Linked DNA regions of Homo sapiens: all the other regions are linked to region 1. Evidence: fine-mapped expression QTL. A gene starts in region 1. Each other region holds a variant in brackets. All regions are shown on one strand. Distances are between the middles of the regions.

Region 1 (5,075 bases):
CAAATGGAGAAAATAAGCTCAAACAGGTTAAATGTTTTACTCAAGGTTTTATGCACAGTAAGTGATGGAGCTGAACATTAAATAATTTTTCATTCAGCCAGCTCACTAATTTGTTCACTGACTCCTGTTGAGGAGGAAAAAAGTATAGTAACTACTATAATGCATATAAAACTACTGTAATCTACAAAGTATTTTTTCGTGCCATATTTAAAAAATGAGGGGGTGAAACATTTCTAAGAACCTTTCCATTTTAAAAATTATTTGTAGAGGATGTGTGTGTTGGGGGAGGATGAGAGTTTAGACAAAATCAAAGGTAAAGAATATTAAAGGAAACATATGGATAACTGCACTAATTCAAAAAGTACAATAGGATCTATTCAGAAATCCCACAAAGCAGCTAAACATTAAATGGCCATCCTGGTGAAAGATTACAAGTATTCAGTACCACAGATGAGTTGTTTACCAAACACAGAAGGAAGAGTTGTATCAAACACTTTGGTTCACAAAGGTATACATTAATATGTAACATTACTGTAATGGAAAAAAATGCAATGGCTTTTCATTTAATAGTTAAAAAATGGACTACTTAATTGTATAACTGTTTATTTCTATAAATTCCACAAGGGCTTTAGGATTAGATCACATAAGCCGCATCTGGAATACACTGTCTGTCCAAACATGAAAAGTCCTATCAAAATGCACAGTACTAGTAAATAAATAACAAATGATAACAGAACAAGGCCCCATAAAACTGGTGAAATATTTAACAGTATCAAATATTTACTACGATTGGTCTACAACCCTATTCTGCCTCTTTTCTCCTTGATTTGTCATTCAGCACTGGAAGAAAAAAAAACCTTCATGAACAACAAAATGAGAAAAAGGATAATGAACAAGAACTGGGTCTTTCAACTGATTTACAATGGAACAGTTTTGTTGTAATCCTCTTATGGGCCCCTCCTCCAATTATGCAATCATTCCACTGCAAGAGATTACAAGGCTTTTAACCCGACACTGAACGGAAGGAGTTGGGGTGAAACAGGAGAGTGTATAACAGGTAGCCTCCGAACAGGCAACATTTCCATGAAACTAAATTGCCTCTCAGTAATCAGTACTAACTAACTCAGCGCTCGTGTCTTTCAAGACCTTACCCTTTCATCTTTTTTAATCCCATAACAACCGGCAACTCTTCACATGCTGCGACTTCCACCCAGCATCATCACTTCTGGAGCCAGTAAGCTCGCGCTTCCTGGGCGGTCGGGGCGAGTTGTCAACGCTGGGAGGGCAGAGCCATGCAATCCCACCCGTGCAGTTCGTCTCAACTCCCCCGAACACAAGTCTGGCGGCACGGAGCTGCCTACTTGGGCGCGACTCCGGGCGCCTGCCCGGAATTTCCCACCAGGTTTCACCGAAACCTCCCGAGGGTGACCTCTACGCCTCAGCACGGTGCCTCGCGCGTAGTTTCCTAAGACTGGGACACGAAACCACCCCAGGTCCACAGCCCTGCCGCGCGGCGTCCGGTGTTGTGAGCTGCTTCCGACTTGTTCGGGAACTCTCTCTTCATCCTCTTCGCGACCGCGGCCCTCCGCTCCCGGCCGCGCCCGCCCGCCGCCAGGTAACCCGCTGGACTCGGGCTCCCTGCCCCGGGCGCGCGGGACCGCGCAGTTAATGTGTAACGCGCCCGTGCCCGGGGGAGGAGCCGCCGCCCGACGCCCACCAGCAGCCCAGGGGGCGGCCGGCTGACCCGGGTCGCCAAAGTCCCCCCCACACGCCGCCCCCAAGGGCCCGGAGCCCAAGTGCCCAGGCGGAGAGCGAGCTCACCGGGCCTGGGCATCCCCCCGAACCCCCGCGTGCCGCGCCCTGCACGGCGCCAGCACCTGCACCTGCCGCGGCCGCCCCTCCTGGCCGACTCGCCAGAGGCGGGCGCGCGGGCGCCGAGGGGGGCGGTGCTCTACGCTCCGGGCCTCTCCCTCCCGCGGCCGCACTCACCTGAAGAACCCACCGCGGCCGCTGCCGGCGCTCAGGGGCGCTCACAGAGCCGCAGAGAGCGCGTCCCGAAGCAGCGAGAAACGGAGGAGGACGGCGAGCCCTTTCCGCTACACTCCACGGCGGCGGGCTCACTACGCCGGCAGCCGCCGAGGGAACGCGGGACTGCGCCTGCGCCGGAAGCGGGGCCGGGGGCCGGGAGCCGGGAGCGGCCGGTCCTCACGGAGGGAGGGCGGGGTAGGGGGGTGTGGCCGGCAGGGGCGGGGCGAGCCCGGCATGGGGCCTGGGGGCGGACGCGCTTCCGCGCCCCCTGGCGCCAGGCGGGGCTCGTCGCAGGTGTCACGGCCCTGGCCCGAGGTTCCTCCGCGGGCGGTTTCCCTGGGAACCAGCGCGAGCCGGAGCTGCGCTCTGTTTCGTCGGGCCCGCGCTCTGTTTCGTCGGGCCCGCGCTCTGTTTCGCCGGGCCCGAGAGGCGGCCTCAGGTTAACTTCAAGCATGTTGGGCTCTCCAGGAGGGAGAAGAGGCACCTTTGCCGTGGGTTGAGGACTCCTAGAACCAACCTGAGACTCCGCGGCCATATACACCTTACGACGTGTGTGTGTGTGGCGGGAGATGGGAGGGGAGGAATCCTGTAGAACCCAGATCCCATCATTCCAGCAACTGCCAGAGCGTTCGAGAATGTCATGTCTGTACCTGTCTTCTCTCATCTTTTGTGCCAACTGTTTTATCAAACTTCTACCCCACTTTAGGTCTTCCAGGTAGGAAAAATACAGAAAGAGCCAAGATCCCAAAAATCAAAAAAAAATAATAATAATAGAGGTAGTCATAGTATGTGTCTCTATGTTTAGCAAAAGAGAAACGTGCATTTGTGTGATACACTTATTGAATAGGACCATCATTCTGGGTATTAATCTCATCTATTAGAGGCAGTAAAGAAAAGTAGACTATATGTATGGTTGTTGGAGTCAGAATTACTGGGCTTGAGCCTGCCACCTGCTAGCTGAGTGACCTTAGGCAAATGAATCTCTCTAGCCCCAATTTTCTCATCAGTGAATGAGTATACAGAACCTGCCTCACTGAGTCATTAAGAGTTTAAATGGCTTAATTCATGTAAACACTTTGCGTACTTCATGACACAGAGTGCCTAATAAATATTAGCTATTGTTATTATACCATTATAACTATTATCATGCATCTGTAATCCAGAAACCTAGAAAGCCAGTGTTTCTTATTTTATACCCCATCGCCAATATATCACCAAGTCTTATTCATCCTAATTTCTAAATAATTCTTAAATCTATCTTATCTGATATTCATTGCCACTAGAAATGACCTTTCTCATTAATGGATTCCTATTCTCCCTTACACCTCATAGCTGGTCATTTATTCATCAGACATTTTATTGCACTCCATCTGTGTGCCTCCTGTTAGACATAGGGACAGAGAAACCATTACAAAGTCCCCACCATCCACGGACTCAAACATATATAGGGAGACAAGTATGTCAATAGTAGCTACGTGAAATGAATAAATTAAATATACAGCAAACCACTTAGGCTCCCCAGTCTTGCCGTACTCACATACAACCCTGTATTTCCATATGCTGTTTATTTTTATGTCTTGATCTCCTACCTTTTCCTTGCCTTGCTAATTATTTGTTATTCATTATTTAGCCTAGACATCAATTCCACTGTGAACCCTTCCCTATTGTTGGCCACTCAGCCCTATCCCAGCCACTCCAGTATGGGCTAAGTGCCCCTACCAGGGCTTCCATAACACCGTATCTCTTTGTAACACTTATCACATAGAGTTATAATTGTATCTGTATTTCTCCATTTTCCTGGACTGCGAGCTTCTTGAGAACAGGCACAAGGTCTGACATGCAGTAGGACTGACTCAGTAAATGCAGAATGAGTGAATGGCATGCATGCAGAGTGCAGTCTTGGTATGTGAATGTTTAGAGGACAAGTCCTATGATATATTCTACATAAGACCTAAGACATCATGATCTATAGGAAATAGTAAGCAGTAACCATATATGCCTGAGTCCTGCGTTGGTCCATTTACAAATCACCTACCATCCATGAGGCTTTTTGAAATATACTGAAAGATGTTCCTCTTGAATACTTAACCTGTTAGCGCTGTTTGAGAAGAGTGATATAGATTGTTACCTATAATAATACTTCAGTGTTCTTGCAGCACAGAGACCAAGATACATTACAGAATATTAGACACTCAGAATCTCAGCCTACAAAGTATGTAAAGGGCTGTGAGCATCTTAAGTTTGATAGCTTACCCATATATAAAAAGGACAGCTATTTCACAAAATTTAAAAATGTGAAAGATTTGGATGGGCACGGTGGCTCATGCCTGTAATCCCAGCACTTTGGGAAGCCAAGGTGGGCAGATCCTTGAGGTAAGGAGTTCGAGACCAGCCTGGCCAACGTGGTGAATCCCCATCTCTACCAAAAAAAAAAAAAAAAATCAGCTGTGCATGGTGGCACACACCTGTAGTCCCAGCTACTTGGAAGGCTGAGGTGGGAGAATCACTTGAACCCGGGAGGCGGAGGCTGCAGTGAGCCGAAATCACGCCACTGCACTCCAGCCTGGGCGACAGAGTGACACCCTGTCTCAAAAGAACAAAACAAAAGGCCGCACGCGGTGGCTCACACCTGTAATCACAGCACTTTGGGAGGCTGAGGTGGGCAGATCACCTGAGGTCAGGAGTTCAAGACTAGTCTGGCCAACATGGTGAAACCCCATTTCTACCAAAAACATAAAAAATTAGTCGGGCATGGTGGCTGGCACCTGTAATCCCAGCTACTCGGGAGGCTGAGGCAGGAGAATCACTTGAACCTTGAATCACTTGAACTCGGGAGGCAGAGGTTGCAGTGAGCCGATCGCGCCATTGCACTCCAGCCTGGGTGACAAGAGTGAGACTCCATCTCAAAAAAAAAAAAAAAAGAGTGAAAGATTTTATAGTGTGCTCAAGGTTGCCTTTTTCTCTTTATTTTTTTCTCTTTATTTTTTAAAAATGTAAATTATACAATTAGTGTCAAATATAACGTATAAAATAATATTGCTTTTTTT
Region 2 (5,075 bases), 98 kb after region 1:
GAGATGTCAGATCCCAGACAACTCAGGAACAGCATGTCATTGCCATGCCATTCCCACTCAGGAAACTCGAGCCTCTTCATTCAGGGTTGTATAGCCACAGCTGCTGTTCACGGTACCTGGCAGGCTGGTTGGCTCTTGCCACAGGCGGGGCAGCCAGGAGCCCTCCTGCTATTTCCATCCTTCAGCCTCAGGAGCCATCAGTCACTCCCAGGTCAGCTCCACAGCAATGGGCATGGAGCGCTGAGCAACAGAGAGCACTCCACAGAGAGAGGAGATGAAAAGATTTGGAATGGGTTTTTTTGGGGGGGATGGGGGTACAGGGGTTTGAGATGGAGTCTCACTCTGTCACCCAGGCTGGTGTTCAGTGGCACAATCTCATCACACTGCAACCTCTGCCTCCTGGGTTCAAGTGATTCTCGTGCCTCGGCCTTCTGAGTCGCTGGGATTACAAGCATGCCCCACCATACCCGGCTAATTTTTGTATTTTTAGTAGAGACGGAGTTTCACCATGCTGGCCAGGCCACTCCTGGCCTCAAGTGATCTGCCCACCTTGGCCTCCCAAAGTGCTGGGATTACAGGCGTGCACCACTGTGCCCAGCCTGGGATATGGAATGTGTTAAAGCCAGCTTTACTCTCCTAAGGACAAAGGCAAGCCAGTAAGTGGAGGAAGAAACAGCTAAGCCAGAGTTGGTAAATCCTGCTGGTGGGAGAGATGACTAAGGACAAGATCAAGCCCCCTCACTGCAGGGGAAATAAAACTTCTAAAAGTTATAAGTCCAAAAGTTGATAAAAGACTGGAGTTAGGCAAAACGTCAAATATAAGAGGCAAGAATATGCCCATGTTCTTGAGTTCTTTCCGTGATGGGCACTGGCTTTGTGTTTGGCCAACATAAAGTTTAGAGCCACTTTCCTCTGAATATTTCAAGTGATACTCAGAGAGCCTGTGGAAGGAGCACTGAGGCGTTTGAGAGCAAAGAGCAGAAAGCCAGCGTCAGAGTGGAAACAACCGTGTCCTTCAGCTGTTCCATCAAGGTCGATGGGGTATGGCCCCCCAGCCACCAGTGCAGTTCTCTGCAGCTGCCTCACCTCCAGTACCCAAGGCTAAGGGAGTCGATGTCTCTCCCACACACAGTTTTTGCAAATCCCACTCTGTTGTTACCCCACTGAAACATGCAGCGTAGGGTGGGGCACAGTGGCTCACACCTGTAATCCCAACATTAAGAGGCCAAGGCAAGAGGATTGCTTGAGGCCAGGAGTTTGAGACCCACCTGGGCAACATAGTAAGACCCCATCTCCACACACACAAAAAAAAACTTAAAAATTAACCAGGCATGCTGGCATGTGCCTATAGTCCCAGCTACTCAGAAAGCTAAGACAGGAGGATGGCCTGAGCCTAGGGGGTCAAGGCGGCAGTGAGCTATGATCACGCCACTGTGCTTCAGCCTGGGTGATGAAGTGAGACTGTCTCCAAAAAACAAAACAAAACAAAAACATGCAGTAAAAATCAGATATAAGTATGTGTCCTAGGATTCAGAGCTGTTCAGAGTTGGTGGTGACATCTAAAACTGATACACACAATCCCCCTCCCTCAGGGCCTCCTAGAACCTAAAAGAGCAGATACAGGGTGGCATGGGCATCACTGCCGCCCTGCATCCATAACACCTGCTGGCTGGGTACCAGCCAGGTATCTTCTCTACGTATTTTTCAGCAGACAATGTGTACTTTCTATGGTCTGTGGTCCACAGTATACCAGGGGAGTAAGTTCTTCTTGTTTTTTGTTTGTTTGTTTGTTTTTCCTAGAGATGGATCTTGATGGATCTTGCTATGCTGCCCAGGCTGGCCCTGAGCTCCTGGACTCAAGTGATCCTCCCACCTCAGCCTCTTGAGTAGCTGGGACTACTGCGATATGCCACTGTGCCTGGTTTATGAGCTCTGATTTTACATTCCACATATAAAACATATTTTTATATATGTTTTTATATATGTTTTATATATACATTCCACATAAAAAACATATTACATATTCCACATATAAAACCAAATTTCAAACATGGCCTGGTCAACATTTGTGAAGAAGTGAGGTCTTTGAACATAAAAGTAAGAATATGAGCTTTGGGCCGGGTATGGTGGCTCACGCCTGTAATCCCAACACTTTGGGAGGCCAAGGTGGGCAGATCACCTGAGGTCAGGAGTTGGAGAGCAGCCTGGCCAACATGACAAAACCCCATCTCTACTAAAAATACCAAAAAAATTAGCCAGGCTTGGTGGCAGGTGCCTGTAATCCCAGCTACTCAGGAAGCTGAGGCAGAAGAATCACTTGAACCCAGGCGGCAGAGGTTACAGTAAGCTAAGATTGCACCATGGCACTCCAGCCTGGGTGACAGAGCGAGATTCTCTCTCTCAAAAAAAAAAAAAAAAAAA[G/AG]TGGAATATGAGCTTTGGACTTAGATTTCATGGATTCAAATCTTGGATAGACCACTTTTGGTGACAAGTTACTTAACCTTTCTGTGACTTGGTTTTCTCACAAATGAAATGGAGATAATAGTAATACCTATTTTTGTGGGTATTAATAAACTCATATTACACAGCTAGCCATATAGCATACACAATACATACTTGCCATCATGTTTATATCATCATATTATTAAATAGTATGGTGATTAAGAGCTGAGGCACTGCTCTAGTCGGGCTCAAACACTTACTAGCTGTAAGACCTTGAGCAAGCTACCGAACATCCCTTAACCTCAATTTCATCAACTACAAAATTGTGTTAATGCCAGAACCTTCCTCGTCAGGTTGTTTGAAAAATTAAATGAAATTGTGAAGATAAAGCTATTAATATGGGGTCTGATGCAAAGTTATGACTCAATAATTATTAACTATTTTTAATATTAGTTAATAAAATGGGCCAGACTTTGGAGCAAAACATTTGGGATTTTTTTTCCTCTCCTTCCCCCTCCTCAGATTTCATAATTTTTAATGTTTCTTCCCTGAAAGTATATAAGTGACTATTTTGCGAAGTCAAATATCTATGGACATTATTTCTTAAATCTCCTACCTTGGACCGATTTGATAAAAACAGCGTATAACAAACTACACGTGGCAGAAGCAAAGGCCAAGGGAGGAACACCAGCGAGGGTTTCTCCACGCTGCCTCCAGGTGGCAGCACTTAGCATGGCGAGCCTCAAAAGGCCCAGATGAGAGCCTCCGCTTCAATCCATCTGAAACCAAGGGTGGAAGCTATGTTCATCCCTGAGGGCGACTGAAGATTCTCAGATGCACTTGTCATTGCCTCTGGGGAAGGAGGCTTGGGACATGGATGGACAGGGCTGGGGCGATCAGGGCTGCCCCTAACGTATGCAGAGCCCCTGTGTGTGTAAATAATTTGAGTCATTCCAAATCAGTATGTTGAAAAAAACAAAACACCGCACCAGACCCAGGAGTGACCCATGCATCAGTCAGGTTACTCCTGGAAGCAGGGCCTGCAGGAAACCCCACACGCCTTAGAGCGCCTTGTCCAGATGGCATTGCCAGCCCCGCCAGTCCCAGGCACCAGGGAGGGACTTGAATATGAGAAACTTTAGAGGAAGATGCTTCAAAGCACAGAGGGGCTTTTGAGTAGAAACAGCCTTTCTTATGGGCGGGGGGTTCTGCATCCCTGAGTCCAAGATAATACACAAGCACACACACTTTAATTATTTCTTTAAGCTCTTGTTAATGTTTAAAATCTCCCCTTCTAAATGGATTGCTTACCAAAGACAGAATCCAAGAAATTGGCAGCTGAGGGTCTTATCAGGAGGGGGATATGGGCCTGGCACGGTGGCTCACGTCTGTAATCCCAGCACTTTGGGAGGCCGAGGCAGGTGGATCACCTGAGGTCAGGAGTTCGAGACCAGCCTGACCAACATGGAGAATCTCTTCAAATCAGTGGGGAATGTGGAATGGAGAGCCTCTTCATCTGCAAGACATCAAGGAATAGACCTCAGAGGCTGCTGATACCCACTGGCTCCCGGTTGGTTGGAGTAAATGCATTCACAGTAGGTCTTCATGTCACTGACCTTCTGTTCTTAGAACCTTGAGGTGAGAAGGAAATTTTTGTGTCACCTGGTTCAGTGCCTTGTTGTGTGGTAGAATTCTCTCTACAATCATCCTGCCAAGATTCATCCAGCTGGAATCCCTTTAGTGAAAGACAATTCACCCTTCCTGAGACAACACACTGCATGCTGGGACATTACACTCTTTAGAGGCCTTCTCCATGTTGAGTGAAAAGCTGTCCCCTGACAGCCAGATCCCACTGGTTCTGATTCTGCCTGTGGGTCCACACCTAAGTAGTCCATCCTCCTGCCTGCTCAGGACCTGCCTCAAACATCTGAAGAGTATGATGCTTCTATACATGCCCTCAACACACACACACACACACGCGTGCACACACACACACCGTTTCTTGAGACCAAACCTTGCCAAACCAAGAATCAAATTGTTCTTTACATCTGATGATCTTGAGTCCTTCCACTGTCCTGATCTGTCTCTGCTGGCGGTGTCATAAATGGTCCTACTCAAATGTGCACCCAGAAGCAAGCACAGTACTCCCCATATTTGATGGGTGGGAGGTGGAATTTTTTTTTTAACCAGTGCAAAGTAGAGCAGCAAAATCAGCCTCCTTGTTAGGAACACTCAGCTTCTAACCATGTGGCCCACGATGCTGTACCTCCCAGAACCTAGACCACTGTCTGGCACTGGGTAGACACTCAAGAAGTATTTGTTTAATATACATGAATGATATTTTGAAAGTGTAAGTTCATTTTTGTTTTACCTTTTTGTAGTAGCAGTTAGTGATTGTTGTTGCCAATAGTCAGGAGGAACTTTGGGATTTCATATCTGACGTGACTCTGCAGGCTGGGCTATTGGCTACCTGTAGCAAAGTCTACTAATTGTCTCCCAGTATCCATTCTATGGATCACAAGTGACTACATTTGGGCAATAGAATGTGAGCAAAGCATGACAGGTGCAATTTGCAGATCATCTCCTGGAAGGAGAAGCTGTGGCGCTCCCTTTCTGCATTCCTGCTGTCTGAGAGA
Region 3 (5,075 bases), 110 kb before region 1:
AGGTGGGTGGTTCTTCTGAGCCCGGGAGGTTGAGGCTACAGTGAGCCATGATCGCACCACTGCACTTCAGCCTAGGCAACAAAGCTAGACCTTGTCTCAAAATAAAATATTATGTAAGTGATATTATGTCCTTCTCAGTGCCTTACATCAGAAGGATAATAATGTTCTGTTATGACTGATGTTAATGTTGATTCCTTGGTTAAAGTACTGTCTGCCAGCTTTCCTCACTGTAAAAGCTCTCCTTTTATAATTTGTGGGGAGATACTTTGAGATTTTGCATACATACTGTTTCTCATCAAATTTTTACCCAATAGTTTTAGCATGTTTTGATGTTCATAAGTATTTTAATACAAAAAATGAAAAACAAACTGAAATATGTTCTGTTTTGGTTTAAGCCTCGGTATTCAGCAAAAATTATTTCTTTCAACTTTGATTTTAGAAATAAAGGGTGCATGTGCAAGTTTGTTCCATAAGTATATTGCATGATGCTGAGATTTAAAGTATAGATCCCATCATCCAGGTAATAAGCATTTATAGACAATTTTTTCCAGTCCTGAATCTAATCCAGAATAACATAATGCATTGGGTTATCATGTCTTTTTAGATTTTTCAAAAAGTACAGGCTAGTTGTTTATAGGATGTCCCTCAGTTTTAGTTTGCCTCCTATTATCTTATGGTTAAATTCAAATTGTATATGTTTGACAAGAATATTACATAAGTAAGATCCATTCCATGAAATATTATGCAGCCATTGTAATAAATTTTACAATGTCTCAAGAGAAAAAAGTGGGTTGCAAAATCTTGTATGCGGTGAATTTCTTTCCCAATATAAAGGCAACAGATAGACAATTCCAAAATGAAAAAGTTGAGGGTATAAGACTCCTTTAAGTCCCTCTTGAAAGTAGCTCCTTAACAATAAAATTCAGCCAATCAAGAATGAATCACAAGAAAAAAAACAAAGAATACAGAAACTGAGGTGAAAAACAACCATGGATGAAGAGCGAATTCATGTAAATATAGGATTTAGACTGAAATTCTAAGGGGATTTTGGCTACAGATCAAAATGGAAAAGTAATAAACCCTGACAAAGAAAAAATAATATAATCAACAAAAATTGGAAGGCAGGGAGATGGGAGGTGGGAAGAGATGTAATACTAATTATCTCACCACTCATATCTCAGAATTCGTCTTTACTACCTAAACCTGTACCATTTGGTTAAAAAAACTTCTTCAACTTTTTAGTCATTTTCTAAATCCCCTTTCCTTAATCTTGGAAGAATCCTTTAGAACTGATAGTTTTAACAATAAATAATTACTTTTTTCAGAATTAAAATTCTGTAATTCCTTTAGTTTTCCTTCAAGTTATTTTTATTCTGTTAAATTCAAGTAAAATTAATATTTTATATTAAATTTAATATTTTATTAAAATAGTGCATATAAGATCATTTCTTATAATGATAATTTCTATCCATCTATCTACCTACTGATTGTATTAGTCTGTTTTCATGCTACAGATAAAGACACACCCAAGACTGGGCAATTTACAAAACGAAGAGGTTTATTGGACTTACAATTCCACATAGATAGGGAGGTCTCACAATCATGGTGGAAGGTGAAAGGCACATTTCACATGGTGTCAGACAAGACAAGAGAGCTTGTGCAGGGAAACTCCCATTTTTAAAATCATGAGGTCTCATGAAATTCATTCACTATCACAAGAACAGCACAGGAAAGACCTCCCCCTATGATTCAATCATCTCCCACCAGGTCCCTCCCACAACACGTGGGAATTATGGGAGCTACAAGATGAGATTTGGGTGGGGACACAGAGCCAAACCACATCACCCATCCATCCACCCACATATCCTTCTATCTGTAGATATTCATGGAGAGATGATGAAATAACATCCCACCACCATTAACACTGGTTAGATTATAGGATTGAGGGCAATTGATCATTATTTTCAAGTCCTAATTTTAAACTTTGGAAAAATATTTTATACAACTTTGGGTAAAATGATTTTCTAAAACAATTAAAAAATCAAATTGCCAAAATCAACTCAAAAATAAAGAGAAAGTCTGAAATGACAAATAGCCCTGGAATAAACAGAGAAAAATTTCACCATAACCATCACCCTACCCCTGCATAAACAAGCAAGGTTCCAATGACATCAAGGATCATGCT[G/T]TTAAAACTTTAACAATATAACTCTTCTACCATTTTCACAATTGTGAAACAGAGAAAGAATAAAAGTATCCAAAGTATTTTCATGAAGCTAGCATAAAATGAATGCCAAAATCTGATAGAGATGAAATGCATAAAGAAAACCATAGACTAATATAATTTGTGAATGGTATACTCAAATCCTAAATAAAATGCTGTCAAATGAAATTCAACATTAAAAGAAAAATTTATCATCAAGAAACACAAAGATGACTCAATACTAGAATTCATATATCAAAGGTAAAATAGTATTTGACCTTCTTAATGCCAAAAGGCATTCAACATCAATTCCAATGAATACATCCTTAAGATTATATATATTCATATGCACATATATATTATGTTTATGATAGAAAACTAACATCAAATAAGACCCAGTGTTGGCTGGGCGCAATGGCTCGCGCCTGTAATTCCAGCACTTTGGGAGGCTGAGATGGGCAGATCACTTAAGCCCAGGAGTTTGAAACCAGCCTGGCAAACATGGTGAAACCCTGTCTCTACTAAAAATACAAAAATTAGCTGGGTGTGGTGCCATGCACCTGTGGTCCCAGCTACTTGGGAGGCTGAGGCATGAAAATCACTTGAACCCGGGAGGTAGAGGTTGCAGTGAGCCGAGATCACAGCACTGCACTCCAGCCTGGGTGACAGAGCAAGATCTGTCTCAATAATCAATAACAAAAACAAAAACAAATAAGAGCCAGTGTCATGTTTAATGATTTAGAAAATTAGAACTACTGTATTTTCATTAATGTTAGAAATAAAATAAGTATTTTAGTTACCATGTTATTACACAATACACTGCTAAAGGCACTAGCATCCCACTTAATCAAGAAAATGAAGAGAGTTATGAATGTCAGAAAGGTGGAAATAATTTGCATATGACATATATTTTAAACTTATAAAATCAAAGAATACCAACTAAAACTTGTTTAAAATAATAGGCAACTTCAATAAGGAGACCACCACAAAAGTAATGTATAAAAAATAGATTTCTATATTCAAACAACAGCTACTGAGAAAATGTAATGCAGAAAGATCCATTTATAATAGGAATATAATTGTCAGGAATAAAATTAAATCAAAAGAAGAAACTCTAAAATTCTGATAGAATGAAGAGAAGATGAATAAATTAAGAGCATATTTTGTTTGGATAAAAAAGGCAATAGTATAAAGATGTAAATACTCCTAAATTAATTTATAAATTTAATATATCTACAATCAAAAATTTCTTAAGGAAACAAACTGATTCTAAAGTTTATCTCAAAGAATGCTAATGTGAAAATACCCATGATAATAAAAAACATGTGAGTAAAAAAGGGATATTTACCAACAAGATGTACAAAAGTAATATAAATATTGTGTTGCAACAATAAACAGACCAATATTTTGAACATAATAAAGTCCAGAAATAAACCCAAACATACTTATGAGAATTTAGTTTGTGATAGATGTATCATTTTATGTCCATGAAAAAAAGCTATGTTCTATACTAGAGTCTCACCTCTACACCAAAATGAATTCCTAGATGTATGGAGGATTTAGATAAACCATAATATTACTAGAAGAAAACAGGCACATATGTCTGATGTCTGTATATTTTGGAAAGAGAAAAAGACTCTTAAACCATAATAAGAATACCAAAAAATATACAGAAAAAAAGTCTATAAATTTGACTACATAAAAATTGATTTTTTCAGACTACATGAAAAGCAAGGTTGAAAGCAAATGCTGCTTCTAAGGTTTTGGACTAATAATTCTCAAATCAAAGCTTCTTAATGATTGCCTATATCTTACTAGAAAAGGTTCATGAGGGCAAAAATCATAGTTGTCTTATTCATCACTGTAACCTCATAGTACTAAAGCTTTTTTCTTTTTCTTTTTTTAAAGAGAGAGAGAGAAGTCATTTGAAGAGCGAGGTAAATATTTTCTAGGACTCCAGAGCCAGCTAATGAGGAAGTATATGTGTCTGGATAACAAATGCATAGAAAAGCCACAGAGATGGAATCCAAAATGTTAATGGTGATTATCTTCAGTGATAGTGCTTTGTTTTGTTTTCTCTTCTTTATACTTGTTTTATTCTTTAAATGTATTACTTTTGTAATCATAAAGTTATAAAAGAAGTTCATCTCTGAGTAAGAATAAAATGAACTTTTTCTTTGAAAAAAACAATATTTGTTGAATGAATGAATGAATGTCTTCACTAGCAAGGACTGGATTGACAATCCTTAGTAAAGAGGTGGCATAATTGGGGCATATGCTCTCTGTTCTATATGCCCTCCTTCACCCCATCCTTTCTGCAGTTTCTGAGCAGAAGAATACATTAGCACCCAACAACAAAAGGGCCTTGAAATGTGAGTTTCCTTCAGAGCCCTCTGACTAAGCCTTTGTCTTACTGCAGCAGTTTGAGTGGCACAAGAACCTCCCACCCCACCAGACAATTACCAAAGAACTGTAGCTCCTGATTGCCACTAGTTATGAACTCAAACAAATTTACAAGAAAAAAACAAACAACCCCATCAAAAAGTGGGCAAAGGATATGAACAGACACTTCTCAAAAGAAGACATTTATGCAGCCAAAAAACACATGAAAAAATGCTCATCATCACTGGCCATCAGAGAAATGCAAATCAAAACCACAATGAGATACCATCTCACACCAGTTAGAATGGTGATCATTAAAAAGTCAGGAAACAACAGGTGCTGGAGAGGATGTGGAGAAATAGGAACACTTTTACACTGTTGGTGGGACTGTAAACTAGTTCAACCCTTGTGGAAGTCAGTGTGGCGATTCCTCAGGGATCTAGAACTAGAAATACCATTTGACCCAGCCATCCCATTACTGGGTATATACCCA
Region 4 (5,075 bases), 97 kb before region 1:
AAAGGGATTTGAGTTTTTTATTTATTGACTCAACACATACATTTGAGTGACTGCTATGTACCAGTCCCTAGGTGCAGAGGCTACAAGAATGAAGAAGGCATAGTTCCCTCCTTCCAGGTGTCCATAGGAGACAGACACGGAAAAAAGGCATTCATTACATACTTTGAAAGGTGAAGTGCAAAGTACTGTGGAAACACACTGGGAGCCCCTGAGGGAATGACGCCAAAGCCAGAATCTTGAGTGAACCAAGTTAACCAAGTAAACAAGGCAGGGAAGTGTGCTCCAGAAGGAGGAAGCCCCATGTGACCCAGAGGTAAGAAGAGCATGAGACTTAGAAAACTGCAAGTCAGGCAGGCCTGGGTTAAATTCTACTTTTGCTTAACTTCTCTGGGCCTACTTCCTCATCTGGATGAAGGAGATGGGTTTTACCACCTTACAGAGTGGCTTGCAGATGAAATGTGATAACATATATGAATCTACTACTGGTTCATGGCACACAGTAAGTGTGCATCCCTTTCCAATTCCTCTCCACTCCCCCGGAGACAGGGCTCAGAACAATGAACCAATTGTTGAACTCATGACAGATCAGTTACATCCAAGCAGGGGGTTAGGCAAAGTCCGAAAAGATGGAAACTTTGACTCTGTCCTGAAGAGGGAGTTGGGTAGCCAGTGGCCAGTTTGTGAGCAATTATACAATGGCTAGGGGTAAGTGAGTGAGAGGAGGATAGAAGGGAGGCAATTTTCCCAAATACTGACTATATTTATTGGCATCTCGTTCTAGAATACGGAAGCTAATGGGCCAATACCTGTCTTTCCCTGCTCTTCCCTCTGGGTAGGCGGAGTGGTGTGCAGATGAAAAAAGTGTTGGACTTGGAATGAAAACACAGGGTCTTGCCTGAAATTTACCAATCCGATTTTAGGCATATCTGTCAATTTGTTAAGGCTCAATTTTTTTTTTTAAATGTGTGAAGGACCAACAAGTTGATGGAAATGCAAGAGTTTGTAAAATGTCAAACTCTATAAGCAAGCATAACACAAATGGCAGAGTGAGAAAGAAACTTTGAAGTTGGGTTAAGAATGAACTGGCAAAATAAACACACGTTAATATTGGTGGCCGTCTATAGATTTTTGTTTTTTCTAACATTTTCACAAAAAGCCAGCAAAGGGGAGGACAGGTCCTGAGCATTGTTTCACAGACCTGACCTCCTCACCACCAGTAAAGGTTATTTCAGATTCTCACACAGAAACCTGCCTCTCTCAGGGGAAGGAAGCAAATTTTTGTTTGTCTTATCCTTATACGGATAAAAGGAGCTAATGGCAGTTCTTCAAATGCTTCTTAAGGAACAACACTTGAGATGGATGGATAATAGATTTTAAAGTGTCCCTCTTCTGATTGACTGGAATTAGCCTGCTCATGCTAACAGCTAGATCTTACTCTTATATTCACACAGAAAAATCGTTCCAAGGAATATTTACTCTTAGCAGAAGAGCTTTGACTAGCTGTTATCTTGTGGAATTATAATCATTTGTGTCATTTCTGCCTCTTCCTGCACATAGGACTGATGCGGGAGTGCTGGGTAGAGGAGGGTGTGTTCCCTAGTTAGGGCTCCACCTCCATGGACCTAGGTGAGGACAGGCATTTCTGCTGCATTTCCCATGACCACCCTGGCCTGCCACGTCCCCCATCCTGTGCCTATAAAAACCCGAGACCCCAGCAAGGCAGAGACAGAAGCAGCTGGAGGGCAAGAGGAGCACATTGGTGAAGGAACACACAGGCGGCTGGACGTCAAGAGGAATGGACCCACACCGGCATGCCGGCTAGCCCCTGACCGGCAGAAGCACACGGAATTTGGCCAGGGCAATCCGGGCCACTGAGTGGGAAAACCAACTCCCTTCTGGTTCCCCCACCTGCTGCGAGCTACTTCCAGTCAATAAAACCTTGCACTCATTCTCCAAGCCCACGTGTGATCCGATTCTTCCGGTACACCAAGGCAAGAACCCAGGATAAAGAAAGCCCTCTTGTCCTTGCGACAAGGTAGAGGGTCTAGTTGAGGTGGTTAACACAAGCCTATAGACGGCAAAACTAAAAGAGCACACTGTAACACACATCCACTGGGGCTTTAGGAGCTGTAAGCATTCACCTCTAGACACTGCCATGGTGTTGGAGCCCCACAGCCTGCCCGTCTGTATGCTCTCCTAGAGGTTTGAGCAGCAGGGCACTGAAGAAGCGAGCCACTGCCCCTGTCACACACCCTGTGAGGGGGACAAGGGAACCTCTTCCATGTCAGGAACTTTCATGAGACTTATCAATAGATTTGTTTCAAAGCAACAAGCTTCCCTAATCCAACAATGGAAGAAAAAAAGAGGATCATTGTCTTCTCTCTTTCCATCTACGGAATCCACTACATATACAGAACACAGATAGGAACAAGGGCAGTAAAATTCCAAAGATGTCTAATCTGCTTTTGCACTGTTTTAATACAGATGAATAAAAAAATAGCTATGCAAATTAAGAAACTGTTTCCCATGCATGCTTTTATGAGCGGTTAAATATATGAGTTGTACTGGAGTTCTTTATGGGATGTTAAATAGTAATATATCCTTCTGGATTATATGGACTTTCAAACCTTTACTTCTGGTTTTTCATGAACAAAAACAGCAGAAGTAGTTAAAAACTTCTATCCCTTTTAAGGA[G/A]GTAGAGAATTTAGTTCAGATCTGAGCCAGCTTCCCCAAACCCTGCCAAGGCATGGCTGAATGACCTACTTGAGGTCAGTGATTAACAAGGTCAGCAGATAGCATTTTTCTGTATGAATTTTATACCACCCCGGCCTTTCCTGAAAGACAGTTGATAGATACAAGAACCGGTTCTTTTAAAATGAGAGCATCACAGAACATAGGTAAACTGAAAAAAGTTATCTCCTTAAAATGAATTTGCAGTCTCTCAACTTCAGAACTTCTTACAGATTTACTATAAAATTAGAACAAAATCCTTCAGACGATCTAAGAACAGGACAATAATAACAATATATTTCTTTCAGCTTTGAGTCTAACCCCAAACAAAGAATGCCAACTAAATCTTGGAAATATATTAAGTTTCACTGTTCTGTGTTTTCTGAAAAATGTAGATTTCAAGACCAACATGGAAAAGCTGAACCTTTTGCAATAAAAGGAAATACTCAGTACTTTGTCCTTTGTTGCTTGGCAACTAAGGGCTATAAATGGATTTTATGATTATAAATTCTCTGGAATTAATGTGAACATGTAAAACTTTTAATAACTCCCTGGAGACAGGAGTGTTTCTTTGAAAAAGAAATGTATGGATCTATGTATGTAGCTGTACTTGTTCTTGTTTCACAATAAATAAAACAAGCAATTTGGTTCCTTCACACTTGCAAATACTATAATAAAAACCACTACCATTTATTCTGTCATTTTAACGTTTTATCATTAATCTTCACAACCGTAAGAGGGTAGGTGTTATTATCCCCATTTGACAGATGGAGAACATTGAAACTTTAAAAGGTCATACAACTAAGATGCAAAGAAACCAGGATTCAAAGCCAAGTGTGCCTGAAACAAGGCATACACCATTAGCCTGCATACCACAGAGATTCCTAGGAAGCATATTTCTCAGCTCTTAATAGTTGAGCTATTGGTAGCTTTAACCCTACGAGAATGACACTAATTCTCAGCATCAAGTCACATGATGCTCTCTTCAGAACACATTACTTCTTATTGCCATATATGACATTTGTTTCTTATATTGTTAATACCAGGGTATCAACCACTGGGGTCCCATCTTGCTGGACTTTTTGTCCTGAGTCAGATTACCCAAAATTACAAGATTAAGAGTTAATATTTATACTGCACTTCTGAGCATAGCCTGCTGCCTAACTTTCCTCTGTATATTTTTGTTATGCACAGAGCAGGACTAAAGAACAGTGATGGTGTTCTGATATCTTTGTACTCTTATTAGTGGACTTACATTATGAGTTTCTGGAGCTGCCTGCTCAATGAACATAAACCATTACCTTTTTACCACTAACACCTCATCTTATTGTGCTAGAGCTGGGATTTTCTAAGGAATAATGGCAGATGGCAGTAAAGTGCCAACTGCTAGCAGTCCGGAATAATTTTACATGCAAATTGTACCGAAAAAAAAAAAAAAAAAAAGCAAGCCCTATCTTCTGCTTCACAGGAGACATGAGTTCTACAACTATCTCTATAGATGTTCCCTGTGACCTGATTAGAAGACAATGTGCACAGTGGATAGGGACACAAGCCTTCAGAGCCAGACAGACTTCTGTCCAAATCTAAGCACTTCACATACCTAATAGCTGTGCTACCTTGGGCAAAGTACATACCTTCTCTGAATCTGTTTCCTCCTCTCTAAAATACTGACAACATTATCATTCATTGTGTTGTGCAAATTAAGAATTAATATAAAGTCTTAGTACAATATCCAACATAAAGTAAAGCATTCATTAAATGGCAGTGGTTTTCCTTCATTAAATGATAGTGGTTTTCTTACTGATCACAGGCTGCTGTCTTCGACCCACTGACTGGACATCCTTCCCCACTGCACGAAATCCTTTTTTCAAGGTCACATACAACCTTCTTTTCCCCAGATTCTATAGGCAATTGTCTTGTATTTCAGAAACATTTGAAACGTTTAACCATATTCTTCTTGAAACACTTTCTTTCCTAGTTTAACAACCACACTCTTCTGGTTTCCCTCCTACCTCACTAAACATTCCTTTACTAGTTACTTTCACTTGGATCCCAAAATGTGATCTGGGACCCTTTTCTCTATCTGTACTCTTCTTGGTGATCTCACTTAGTCTCAGGGGCTTTAAACTGATGACTCTTTAAGCTGATGATTCCCAAATTGACAACAGCAGCTCTAATCCTTCCTTGGGTTTCAAATTCAATAATCCAACTGCCTCCTCATCGCTTCCACTTGGTTGTCTAAAAGAGATCTCAAACGTAAAATGTCCCAAATGAATTCTTAATTACACACACACACACACACACACACACACACACACACACACACAAGCCTGTTCCTCAGTCTT

Direction of the effects. Alleles are on the strand shown, and positions count from the first base shown. SD is a standard deviation of normalised expression in the study named. Not every link is listed here.
As copies of G replace AG in region 2, the expression in prefrontal cortex of the gene that starts at base 2,161 in region 1 goes up (small effect, 0.28 SD a copy in CommonMind).

What was found. PIP is the estimated chance that this variant, and not a neighbour inherited with it, causes the effect.
Region 2: its variant is the best candidate, but not a certain one, in a credible set for the expression of RAB3IP in prefrontal cortex (CommonMind, PIP 0.82).
Region 3: its variant is the best candidate, but not a certain one, in a credible set for the expression of RAB3IP in esophagus muscle (GTEx, PIP 0.88).
Region 4: its variant is the best candidate, but not a certain one, in a credible set for the expression of RAB3IP in whole blood (TOPMed, PIP 0.74).

The regions. Positions count from the first base shown.
Region 1 is chr12:69,735,946-69,741,020 of GRCh38, reverse strand. It overlaps RAB3IP (RAB3A interacting protein), which reads right to left and starts at 2,161. Exons shown (of 11, transcript NM_022456.5): 1 at 1,990-2,161. It overlaps LOC101928002 (a long non-coding RNA gene), which reads left to right and starts at 2,471. Exons shown (of 4, transcript NR_110072.2): 1 at 2,471-2,743. RefSeq lists a silencer at 1,584-2,413.
Region 2 is chr12:69,637,690-69,642,764 of GRCh38, reverse strand. It overlaps LOC105369823 (a long non-coding RNA gene), which reads right to left. Exons shown (of 5, transcript XR_007063358.1): 3 at 3,751-3,955. Among named protein-coding and RNA genes, the nearest start is that of LRRC10, 29 kb to the right of the region's middle. RefSeq lists an enhancer at 3,216-3,295. The variant G/AG (reference allele first, on the strand shown) is at 2,422.
Region 3 is chr12:69,846,700-69,851,774 of GRCh38, reverse strand. The region is part of intron 1 of MYRFL (myelin regulatory factor like); the gene reads right to left. Among named protein-coding and RNA genes, the nearest start is that of MYRFL, 24 kb to the right of the region's middle. The variant G/T (reference allele first, on the strand shown) is at 2,186.
Region 4 is chr12:69,832,927-69,838,001 of GRCh38, reverse strand. The region is part of intron 1 of MYRFL (myelin regulatory factor like); the gene reads right to left. Among named protein-coding and RNA genes, the nearest start is that of MYRFL, 10 kb to the right of the region's middle. The variant G/A (reference allele first, on the strand shown) is at 2,695.